Homo sapiens: one gene and its partner. The protein of the gene in region 2 interacts with the protein of the main gene of each other region in a biochemical or structural test. Each region holds a gene or a part of one and is shown on either strand. Other genes may lie near its edges. The genes, in order: HPF1 and H2BC4.

Evidence for each region.
Region 1: the proteins of H2BC4 (region 2) and HPF1 form a complex in vitro, tested with the Homo sapiens proteins (one study listed by BioGRID).

What each region holds. Positions count from the first base shown.
Region 1 is NC_000004.12:169,747,718-169,755,007, forward strand, and holds part of HPF1 (histone PARylation factor 1), read right to left. Parts: intron 6,119-7,290; coding exon 5,959-6,118; intron 3,009-5,958; coding exon 2,819-3,008; intron 1,126-2,818; coding exon 1,027-1,125; intron 1-1,026. UniProt on the Homo sapiens protein: Cofactor for serine ADP-ribosylation that confers serine specificity on PARP1 and PARP2 and plays a key role in DNA damage response.
Region 2 is NC_000006.12:26,122,765-26,128,122, reverse strand, and holds H2BC4 (histone H2B type 1-C/E/F/G/I), read left to right. Parts: upstream 1-4,196; 5' UTR 4,197-4,218; coding exon 4,219-4,599; 3' UTR 4,600-4,656; downstream 4,657-5,358. Other genes in the region: H2AC6 (histone H2A type 1-C), read right to left, coding at 3,498-3,890. UniProt on the Homo sapiens protein: Core component of nucleosome. Nucleosomes wrap and compact DNA into chromatin, limiting DNA accessibility to the cellular machineries which require DNA as a template.

The DNA of each region.
Region 1 (7,290 bases), on a different chromosome or scaffold from region 2:
CCACATGGGACCTATCTTCTTCCAAGCAGCTGCAATACTTTGAAATCTCAGAGGCAGAAGAGATACCACATGGAGGCTGTGCTTCCACGATCTCCATCAATGAGCACAGCTGTAGAGGCATCTGATGGTTCTGCAGCAGCTGTAGCTGAGATCCCAGCACCTGGTTCTTAGCTTCACGGGGGCTGAGAGGCAAAGAGTAGGGCATCCATTTACCTGGCCCAGATTATACCAAAGATAATGTGGTCCTAGAGCCACTCACTGTGGCAGCAGTTCTCGAATTCCCAGCTCCCTGATGGTGGCAGAGACAAAATCCACTGTGAGCCACACAACTGTCATTCCTGGAAGCTCAGCCTGCTCCCTCAACCCTTCCAAGGATATAATGACCACCTCTTTTTACTTTATTAAGCCTTTCTGTTTGAACCATACATAAGAAATAAACTCTTAACAGGTGTTTAAAATCAGATGTCTAACAAAACTGTTGATGTTGCCATGGAACACCTGAGGTCAAGTATTATTTTCGTTAAGTAAAATAGTTACATAAGAGGTGTATTTTTTTGGTGAAGAGGCACAAAATAACAGTATAGATAAGACTACCTGCAAAAGTCATGGAAATTATCTCTAGAAATCTACAATTATGGGCTTGTCTCAAATCCGCTTTGTTTTTTTTTTTGGAGATAGAGTCTCACTCTGTCACTCAGGCTGCAATGCAGTGGCGCAATCTCGGCTCACTGCAACCTCCGCCTCCTGTGTTCAAGCAATTCTCCTGACTCAGCCTCCTGAGTAGCTGGGATTACAGGTGTGTGCCACCATGCCTCCAGCTAATTTTTGTATTTTTAGTAGAGATGGGGTATACCCATGTTGTCCAGGCTGGTCTCGAACCCCTGACCTAAGCGATCTGCCCACCTCGGCCTCCCAAAGTGCTGGAATTACAGGTGTAAGCCACTGTGCCCAGCCCCTCAAACCCCCTTTGTAATGGACTAATGTAGTATAAACATTGTAAACAAATATAAATTAAAATATTCTTACTTGACTGCAGCAAATACATTATCTCCATTTGGAACAATTATACAATTTTTCTTTGCTTCATTTATACCAACATATACAGGAAATTCATCAGGAGAATCCCTGTGTAAGCAAAAGACATTAAAAATTTAGCTGCCCATAATTTATATTATCAGGCAAGTGGGATTTCAGGTCTACAGACAACAATTTACACCTATTTTTTTTCCTTTTTGGAGGCCTTTTTTTTTTTTTAATCATACCAGAATTTATCGATTACATCAAACAAAAATTTCTGTAATGGAAAAGGCAAGTTGCAGTCATAAAAGATGGCATTCACATTCATTTTAGAAAGCAACAACGTAGATGTAAAAAATTGTTTAAGTGAAAAATGTAATATTGCAGTCCCATTTTGCAAGCTGAAAAATTTTGTCAACACACATAAAATCTGCACATTTACATACTGCATGTTAAAAAATTCCATCACTAAAGTATTATAAATATTGCAAAGTTAGGCTTAAATTTATACTGTTGCTGGTGTATATGTAGTAGATATGGAATGAATGTTTTCAGTTTAGTAGGTAGCATCCTCAAACAACGGACAACAGTTGTGAAAATTACAAAGACATTTCAATAGCTCAAAATTATCCAAATTATAGGTACATCGTCCTATTATTACACTTTTTTCCCTTTCTCTGTCACAAATAGGATGATTACATTGTAGTGGTAGGAATACTGCATGGTCTACTTCAAATTATTCGATCTGCTAACCCCACACTAGTCATTTTTCATCAGCTCCTCAGTAAAATATCTTTTAAAAAGGAAAGCCAGGTCCCTCCCAAGGATCTAGGTTGATGCCTTTTTTATAAGGGCATTTTTAAAAAAATTCAAACAAATTTGCCAGTTTTAAGCTCCAAGTTTCTTAGGAATATCTATGATAAATCTTATATAATGGAACCTAAAACTAAGATTCTTAGGACCTAGTTGCTTTTATACTCAAATACAAAAAAAAAAAAAAAGGAAAAACAAGAAAAAGGATTGTAAAACATTAGAGATGAAAGGATCCTATTCACGTATATAACCAAACCTTTTATTTTAAAATTGAGGAAACAAATACCGAGAGGTTAAATTACTCAGCCAAGGACCTAGTAAGTTAGGACCTTGGCTACAGTATAATTCAATTCCTAGCCACATGTGCATTCTGCTGTACTACAACACTTCTTCCTGGGCACGTTCCTTCTATTACCTTACATTTAATCTTCACTTTAAAGGATAGCATTTCTACTGGTACAAGCGGACAAGTATTTTCCTCCTGGAGTTTCTCTATTTCTAAGTATTCTGCATGCATTCATTTAATTCTCATAATATTCCTATCAGGTATGTACAGTTATCCCTATTGTTACAAGACAGGAAACCGAGTCACAGAAAGTCACAGTCAGTAATGATACAGGGTCACACAGATAATAAACAAGAGGACCAGTGTGACTCCAGAGACCACTCTTAACTACCAGTTGCCACTCTGGCACACGGCTTATTAAGCACAGCTGCTCTAAATTATCTTTCTTGGGCCAAAAGAGCTCTTCTGAACCCAAAAGGGAAAAAAAGTTTACAAGGAAAGGAAAAACAAGTGAGATTAAACCTAAAGAGTTTACCCATCCTAGGGAAGGTTAAAACGGTAACAGCAAGAACAACAGATGGCTCATATATCCACCAACAGGGGAAAATATGCCTTTCACCTTGGGTGAGGCTAGTGAATAACTATTTATCCTCATTAGCAGGACAGCAGCTGTATTTTAGAGGCGAAGAAAAGATCCTTTACCTGAAATACCCCATGTGGTACTGAGTTTTATTATCTCCAATAATAATGGTCTGGAACTCAGGAGGATCATAGTAAAACCTCCAGTGAAGGTTAAAATTCAGGCCTGTTGATTTTTTCTTCGTTTTATGTTTTCCAGCAAGGATATCATAAGGACCAACTAATTGAAGTCCAAGGCTTGCAGAAAGTGAATCTATAAAGAAAATAAATTTAGACAATACTTTCTGGAGACAGGTAGGAAATAATGCTTTTATTTAGTAAACTATTTCTAAGCAATTGTCTTTAAAAAGTTTCTAAACTAAAAAAATCTTGAGTTATGTGTGAAGATGTCAGTTATAAACATTCAATGGAAAAGAAGTCAGAGTAACAGGAAAAGTGGTATTTACATTTAGGATTTCCTCTTAAATTTACCACTGAATTAGCCTAACATTTCAGACATTCCTGTTGTTTCTTATTTTGGCCAAAGCAAGACTGGTTTGTATTCCTATAGGCCCATTACCACACTGCAGTTAGCCTCAAATACTTGTAGTACACACAGGTTAAGGGAGAGAAAGATAGCAAAAATGTGTGGATTAAGAGTAGTAAAAAACAGGCCAGGTGTGGTCGCTCACACCTGTAATCCCAGCACTTTGGCAGGCTGAGGCGGGCTGATCACCTGAGGTCAGGAGGAGACAAGCCTGGCCAACATGGCAAAACCCCGTCTCTACTAAAAATACAAAAATTAGCCGGGTGTGGTGGCTCACGCCTGTAATCCCAGCTATTGGAGAGGCTGAGGAACAAGAATCACTTGAACCCTGGAGGTGGAGGTTGCAGTGAAACGAGATTGCGCCATTGCACTCCAGCCTGGGTGACAGGGTGAGGCTCTGTCTCAAAAAAAAAAAAAAAAAAAAGGTAAAAAACATTTCTATCCCCTTTCCTCTACCTCAGCTAATCACACCAGATTCCCCTGACTCTTTGACAATCTATTTGGCCAACCCTAACCCTGGATGACTCCATCTTCCTTCTCTATTCACGGATCACAGACAGGGAGTGTTCATAAACCACAAAGACATGAAGTCTGTGCAAGTGTACAATGCATAACTTCAAATGGGTCCTTACTTCTAAGATGGAGGGAAGCACCCCAGACAGGACCCAGTTTTATAAGGAGGGAAGGATGAAGAAAACAAAAAAATTCCTGGAAGAGGTAATAACATGAATAGAAGCATGGAGATAACTTGACAGGAAAAATAGTTCAGCTTAACTGAAGCTTAGGAGAGCATACACTAATTTTTAAAGCATGAAGAAAACTAAAACCATCCATCTCATTAGCCGAAGATAACAGTTAATAGTCTATTATACAGTAACAAATTTCCATACTCTCCACCCCCATGAACAGATACAAACATGTAACAAACTGAGAAGGGTTGTTTTGTATTGTAATCTGCTTTTGTCCTCCATCCTGTCCCATTTAAATGTTCTGAATATTTTTCCATGCTATTCAATGTTATTTGACATGATTTTTTAATAGGGCATAATACTGCATTATAAAGAGGTAACCATCTATTCTCTTACTGAGGGAAATTTACTATTTCTTTTTTCTGTTCTAAAATGTTTCAGTGAACATCTTTGCTAATAAATGTTTGTATACAGGCATGACTTTTTTTTTTTTTTTTTTTTGAGATGGAGTCTCGCTCTGTCACCCAGACTGGAGTGCAGTGGTGTGATCTTGGCTCACTGCAACCTCCGCCTCCTGGGTTCAAGCAATTCTCTGCCTCAGCCTCCCAAGTAGCTGAGATTACAGGCACCCGCCACCACGCCCAGCTAAAGGCATGACTATTTTTAAAGAAACAGCTACACAGTTCTGTTCTGATCTACTGGCAAAATTCAGAATATGTATCAATACACATTTCCATCAATAGTGTATGACAGTGCCTACTAGTTAAAAAATTTAAATAGTATAGTGCAAAGTAATGAACACAGCCCATTAACAGTTTCTTTATCCTTTCAGAGACAAAATAAGCACACAGAAAAGTATACAGGGATATGTGTGTACTCTCTCTCCCCCATGCTATTTTTAAAAAAATACTAATGGTAGCATACTCTATACACTCTTCTTTTTCACTTAACATATTTCAGGCATGATAGTTTATTATTTCCTAAAAATCTGCTTCATTCTTTTAAAACAATGAAGATCTACTGAATAGATGTGGTATTGGTAGGCATTTAAGCCATTTCCCATTTTTTCTTTAAGTAAATATCCTCAAACATAATTCTTAGTTTATGTAATCCATAAGACAAGTTCTTGGAAGCAGAACTGTTATAACTCCTGCAACACATGAAAGAGCTTGCTTTCCTTCACATTCCCCCAGAATGTGATGAAATTACCTTTGCCAATAAACTAGGTGACAGTGGCATTACTATAGCATTAATCTATATTTCTTTCTATATTTTCTCTTACTAGAAGAAACATCTTGGAAAATATTTGTTTTCTATGAACAGTTTATATCCTTGGTTAGGTTTTTTTTTTTTTTTTTTTTTCTGAGACAGGGTCTTGCTCTGTCACCCAGGCTGGAGTGCACTGGCACAATCTCGACTCACTGCAGCCTCTGCTTCCCAGGTTCAAGCAATGATCGTGCCTCAGCTTCCCGAGTAGCTGGGACTACAGGTGTGCACCACCATGCCCAGCTAAATTTTGTATTTTTAGTAGAGACAGGGTTTCACTGTGTTGCCCAGACGGGTCTCGAATTCCTGACCTCAAGTGATCTGCCTGCCTCAGCCTCCCAAAGTGCTGGGATTACAGGCATAAGCCACCATGCCTGGCCAATTATTCTATGTTTTAGAGACGGGGTCTTGCTCTGTCACTGAGGCTGGAGTGATCAGAGCTCACTGCAACCTCAAACCACTGAGCTCAAGGAGGGATCCTCCCATCTCAGTCTCCTAAGTAGCTAGGACTATAGGCACATGCAACCACGTCTAGTTTTTTGTTTTTGTTTTTAATTTTTTTGTGGAGGTCTCACTATGTTGACCAGGTTGGTCTCAAACTCCTGGCCTCAGGCAATCCTCCTGCCTCAGCTGGGATTACAGAGTGTGAGCCACCACACCCAGCTGGTTTCCTATTACATTACTCTTTCCATTAATACAAGAATGATTCTGGAGCAACTCACCAGATGGCTTTTCAGGATCAAGTTCTTCACAGAACTTCCAGAAGTGATAGAAATCTTCAGGTAAAGAAAGCTTATAATGATTTTCTACTTCTTTTCGAAGGTCACTGGAGACATCAGCTTCACAGAATTTACTTTTCTTCACATCAGTTGTTTTTTCACACTGAAAATTGGCACACAAACTTTAGTTCTCCAAATTTCAGTAACTCTCCTTGCATAACAGTATCTATCACTCTTGTTCACCCAACTCTATGAAATACATGTGTTTTCCTTAAAACTCTCTAAATGGTCTTTGAGTAAAATCTGGGAATTCATTTGGGCACAGGAAAAAAGAGTAGTTTATATGGTGGTTAAGAGGAATCCACACAGCAAGTCTTTAAATATATTTTTGTAAGATAATGGAAACCACAAAAAACAAAAAGGTAAAAAAAAGAAATAATAAAGAGCAGGAAGAGAGGAATAAAGAAAGGGCAGATTTTGCCCTCTTTTGGTTAAAGGTGTGAGTCTTTTAAACAGATTCATTGATCAAATGAGAAACAAATAGAAGTAACTGGATATAAGCAATTCATCAGTTAAAAAGCTGTTTCTTTAGCAACTTCTAGAGTTGTGTCTGAGCTATTCACTACAATCATTACCCAGCCTTAAAAACAGATACCTCCCTTTTGATTTTCCAGATAAAGAGGGAAGGTTAGTGACAATGTTAAACATCTATAGTTCCTAATAAAGTTAGCAGAATAGCACTAAACTCTGGGCCAAAAATCCAATTATTTCAGAAAAGGCCTTTTAATGCCAGGATGAAGTTATAATACTCATCTCTAGGACCACCACAATACAGGTTCATTATATAAGTATACTAGGTTTTATAATGCCTACTAGATATTTGATAAATTTCTGTAAAGACAATATGCTTAATTGGAAGTTACGTATGTTTAGTTTTCTAAGCAGCAATCTGTTTTTCTATGAACCTAGATTCTTTCTTTTTGGATTAAGTTCTTTCCTTTTTATTCTTCCTACCTAGAGCAGTGGTTCTCAACCGGTGGTGATTTTGCCCCCCAGGGGACATTTGGAGACCTATTTAGTTGTCACCAATTGGAAGAAACGGTGCTAGTGGGGCAGAGGCCAGGTATGCTCAACATCCTATAATGCCCAGGATAGGCATCCTCAACAAAGACTACTGGCCCCAAATGTCAACAGTGCTCAAGTTGAGAAATTCTGAGCTAGATGTTTCTCATATTTATATATTTTTTTATTTTATTATTATTATACTTTAAGTTTTAGGGTACATGTGCACAATGTGCAGGTTTGTTACATATGTATACATGTGCCATGTTGGTG
Region 2 (5,358 bases):
CTCCTATATTCAAGTGATTCTCTTGCCTCAGCCTCCCGAGTAGCTGGGACTACAGGCGTGCACTAGCATGCCCAGCTAATTTTTGTATTTTTTAGTAGAGATGGGGTTGGTTTTTTTTTGAGACGGAGTTTCACTTTGTCGCCCAGGCTGGAGTGCAGTGGCACGATCTTGGCTCACTACAACCTCCACCTCCCGGGGTTCAAGTGATTCTTCTGCCTCAGTCTCCTGAGTAGCTGGGACTACAGGCGCCTACAGGTGAACACCGCCACACCTGACTAATTTGTGTAGTTTTATTAGAGATGGGGTTTCGCCATGTTGGCCAGGCTGGTCTCAAACTCCTGACCTCAGGTGATCTACCCACCTCAGCCTCCCCAAGTGCTGGGATTACAGATGTGAGACACCAGATCAGCCTCAGAAGACATTTTCTATTGGAAAGAGAAAACACTATTAGCAACCTATTAGTCTAATATTTAATACTTAATGTCTTCCTTAGTAATAAACCAACTCTCTACAACAAAGTGCTTCCTGGCTGCCTAAGTCATTGATTCATTCAGTTCAACATTTTCTCAATGCCCAACAGCCAAGTGTCTCTTGTATGCCAAGTTCTATGCTGATTATCAGTATTTGAATAAGAGGGGGTCTACATCTTAAGTACTGCTTAAGATGAAAGCCTCTAGGTTAACAAACTTAACACAATGTATCATTCACTACTAAATAGACCGAATACAAAATCTTGTTATTGGAGCCCAGAGAGAAGAATTGAAATTCAAGTTTTCTCTCTCTCCTTTTCTCACTCACCACAATAAGTCAGTTGCACCAAGTCTTGTAGCTCTTTACTGAGCCATGTTTTCACGTGTCCCTTTGTTTTATTTGCCACACCCTAAATAAAAATTGTACTGGCTTTTTTTCCCTGGGTTTACAGTATTAATACATTGTCAAGATTTACCTCTTCGTGTAGATTCCCTGGGGAAAATTACCTTTCCTCCTTCCCTTAAATTCTTCAGAGGTTAGAAAGCCATTAGTAACATTCTGGTATGTGGACAAAGTTTACCCATTATGTATGGATGTTTTACTCTTTCTATTTTTCTGACAATAATCTCTTAAGGAGGTGTGGTTATAGAATAGTCAGCTGTTATAAGTACTGTTTTCCTGGCCTTACAACTTAAGTTCTTTAAGCTGTTTCTTAGTTTGCTCATCTCAAAATTCGGAATAAGGATAAAACCTATCTCTTAGATTGTTGGATTAAATGAATTAACATACTGGAAGCTCATGAAATGTGCCTGGCACACAGTAGTGCCTAATAAACCATCTCTCTTATTCAGCCTGTTTTCTGATTTCAGAATCTACACTTGCTGAGCCAGGTTCTTTTCATTTCAAGGTGAGCAAAAGCATACAAGGAAGAGATGGAGGTAGGAAGAGATTAAGCCCTAGGCCAAGGTCACACACCGATTGGGAGCTGGAATCAAAGGCAATTTGGTCAGTGAATAAAAAGGATTCCAAGGCCCATAAGGCAATTCTAACCTTAGGATCGAAATTCTCGGACATACAGGAAATGCTGGGGGGGGAAAATCCGGTCTTCTCAGCCCAAGAGCCATGTGAAACCAGACCTTCAAATCTGATGATTCTCAGCCCAGCTGCCCATTAGAATCGTTGTAATTTAAAAATACCCTCGGAAAATTCTAATATGTGGCTATCAAAGGTGATCATTTGCTTTTATGCCACTTTGTTTTCACCCAAATGGGACATCCAACCCTTTTCCTTTGAGAGTAGTTGTAGGGAAAGGAGGGGGTGGAGGGAGGGAAGAGCGGAAAAGGCTGGATCCGCCCTGAGCCGGTGTCAGTATCTGGGAAGTGGGAGGCGCGTCAGCAGTAAACAGCTTCTGCTAGGATTATTATCTCCTGCCACACACTCGGATTTGAAGGCTCCAAACGAAACAATGCAAAACGCTTCAGTGGAGTTCCAGAAGCGTTAGACTAAACGACTGGGTCTGTTTGGCCAGTCTGAGCAGCTGGGCGCAGATGCATAGGCAAGACTTAGCCCGCCTAGACTTTTCTGCCCACTTAATTCCGATCAAAGCAGAAACCGGCCGGGCGCGGTGGCTCACGCCTGTAATCCCAGCACTTTGGTAGGCAGAGGCTGGCGGATCACCTGAGGTCAGGAGTTCGAGACCAGCCCGGCTAACCTGGTGAAACTCCGTTTCTACTGGTGGCGGGCGCTTGTAATCCCATCTACTAGGGAGGCTGAGGCCGGAGAGTCGTCTGAACCCGGGAGGCGGAGTTTGTATGCAGTGAGCCGAGATCGCGCCACTGCATTCCAGCTTGGGCAACAGGAGCAAAACTCCGTTTCAAAAAAGCAAGCAAACAAACAAAAAAATGCAGAAACCGAGATCCGGAAGAAAACCTCGGCGAGATTCACAGAATCCAGGAAAATAGGTCTCTAGAAATTTGTCCATGGTCCCAGATCTCCATTTCTTGTGGGTGGGGCAGCTGTTACCAGATCCCTAGAAGCAAAGGTTTTTTTGGGGGACCGTGTCTCACTGTTGCCCAGGCTGGAGGGCAGTGGCACGATCTCGGCTTACTACAACCTCCGCCTCCCAGGCTCAAGCGACTCTCCTGCGTCAGCTTCAAGAGTAGCTGGGATTACAAGGTATGTGCCACCACGCCCAACTTATTTTTTTATTTATTATTTTTATTTAGTAGAGAGGTGTTTCACCATGTTGGCCAGGTTAGTGTCGAAGTCGTGACCTCAGGTGATCAGCCCCCTCGGCCTCCCAAAGTGGTAGGATTAGAGGGGTGAGCAGAAAGCAAAGGTTTTTGAGTGGCCACAGGCCCCACTCTATTTCCTTTTCTGCCTGTAATGGCAACCTAGACGCTTGAGCTTCTTAAAATACAAGAGTAAGTTGCATGTCAGGCACCGTTCTACATTAGGGACATTAGTCTGTTTTACAGACACCTTTCAACTCCCTGGTTAACTTTTAGGTAATATACTCTGCACTTTAGCAGGAATGGGACCTATAACTCTCACAGAATTAGGAAAGTGAGGCTGCCTACAGCCTAAATTGAGAAAAAAATAGACGGGGGACTAGTCGGAGGACCAAACAAGGTTACCAACACGTTAGAGTTTTGCCTTCAATTTACATTTTTAAAGTAATCACAACGAAGTGTTTAGATCACGAGGCATCCCTGCATGTAAACTGTTAGGCACTAACTATGGTCGATCTTACAAAGCATTAACTAGAATATTTCTTTAGAGTATGATAGTACGTAACTGACCTACTATTACATACAAACAGACCAACCTTTAGTAACAGCGCTCCCCAAAAACCGAAAAGCAGTAATACGCTTTGCTCAAGGTTGGCATAAAATTAACTTACCTTAGTGCCTTTTTTCCTTCTACCTACAAGCAGTGAGGTTAGCTCTTCCTTTGAAACGGTAGGGGGGCTCTGAAAAGAGCCTTTGGGTTTGATAGCGTTTCCGGGAGCTCAGATACCTGTCAAATCACTTGCCCTTGGCCTTGTGGTGACTCTCGGTCTTCTTAGGCAGAAGCACGGCCTGGATGTTAGGAAGGACGCCGCCCTGAGCAATGGTCACCCGGCCTAGCAGTTTGTTGAGCTCCTCGTCGTTGCGGATGGCCAGCTGCAAGTGGCGCGGGATGATGCGAGTCTTCTTGTTGTCGCGAGCCGCGTTGCCGGCCAGCTCCAGGATCTCGGCGGTCAGGTACTCTAACACCGCCGCCAGGTACACCGGCGCGCCTGCCCCAACCCGCTCTGCGTAGTTGCCTTTACGGAGCAGGCGGTGCACTCGGCCCACCGGGAACTGGAGACCAGCGCGAGAAGAGCGGGATTTCGCTTTGGCGCGAGCTTTGCCTCCTTGCTTACCACGTCCAGACATTGCAATCAGACAAAAATCACCAAAACCAGCGGCCTAAGCTCACGAGAAAACAAACAAAATCAAGAAATATGTAAAACATGGCCGCTTTTATAGGTAGTTCCTGGGGAGTAAATCCGACTTTTTGATTGGTCGGTAGCAAATGCTAGTCAGATAGCCAATAGAAAAGCTGTACTTTCATACCTCATTTGCATAGCTCTGCCCACGGATGACAACTGTGCAGTTTGTCTTCCAATTAACTAAGAGGTACTCTCCATCCCTCATTAGCATAAAAGCCCTATAAGTAGCAGAAATCCGCTCTTTACTTTCGACACATTTCTGGTGTTTTAAGATGCCTGAGCCAGCCAAGTCTGCTCCCGCCCCGAAGAAGGGCTCCAAGAAGGCAGTGACCAAAGCGCAGAAGAAAGATGGCAAGAAGCGCAAGCGCAGCCGCAAGGAGAGTTACTCTGTGTACGTGTACAAGGTGCTGAAACAGGTCCATCCCGACACTGGCATCTCTTCCAAGGCCATGGGCATCATGAATTCTTTCGTTAACGACATATTTGAGCGCATCGCGGGCGAGGCTTCCCGCCTGGCGCATTACAACAAGCGCTCGACCATCACCTCCAGGGAGATCCAGACGGCCGTGCGCCTGCTGCTTCCCGGAGAGCTGGCCAAGCACGCCGTGTCGGAGGGCACCAAGGCCGTCACCAAGTACACCAGCTCCAAGTAAACATTCCAAGTAAGCGTCTTAACACCTAACCCCAAAGGCTCTTTTAAGAGCCACCCAGATACCCACTAAAAGAGCTGTGGCCAGACGCCAAATTTTATTTGGCGGCGGAGGGGTATTAGAATATAGGAACTGGAGAGGGGTGGGGACAAGTGTTGCAGCTTAGAGAGGGACAAAGGGTCCTGAACCCGAAAGAAGCCAGCCATTAAAAATGGCTTTGGGGTCAATTCGTTGTGCTTAAATTTAAAATGGAGACAAGCGGCCATTTTGCTAACTCGGCGTTCCCGGAAGAAACCGCAGGCTCGCTTAGGTTTCAGACCCAGCTGTCTGTCCCTGTCTACGTCGCCAGGATCAACGGTTGCCGTAATGTCATAATTTCGCCACCAGCTTCTAGCCAATAGGCTGTCCTGTCATTTTAAATATTAACCAATCGAGGGAAAGCTGTTTTGAGACTCTGATTTACATAGCGGACCGGAGTGGGAACCTGGGCAGTAACTGCCTAAGGAAGGACTCCCCCTCTGTTTTCGTGGCGCACACCTTCGTAGTATACTGAAGGGTGTGTCTCCTGGGTTTCCAACTGCCCCGGTAATAGTCTTTTAACCTAATATGCGTCAGTTTTGATAACAACACTAAGGCAGTACAGAACTAAAGATGTAAGCACTGCGCCAGATGTTGCTTCATACATCTTATTCTATTCAACTGGTTTATTCAAGATTCAAATCAAATCAAATTTTGCTTGAATCCCAGTGCTCAGTCAGCCAT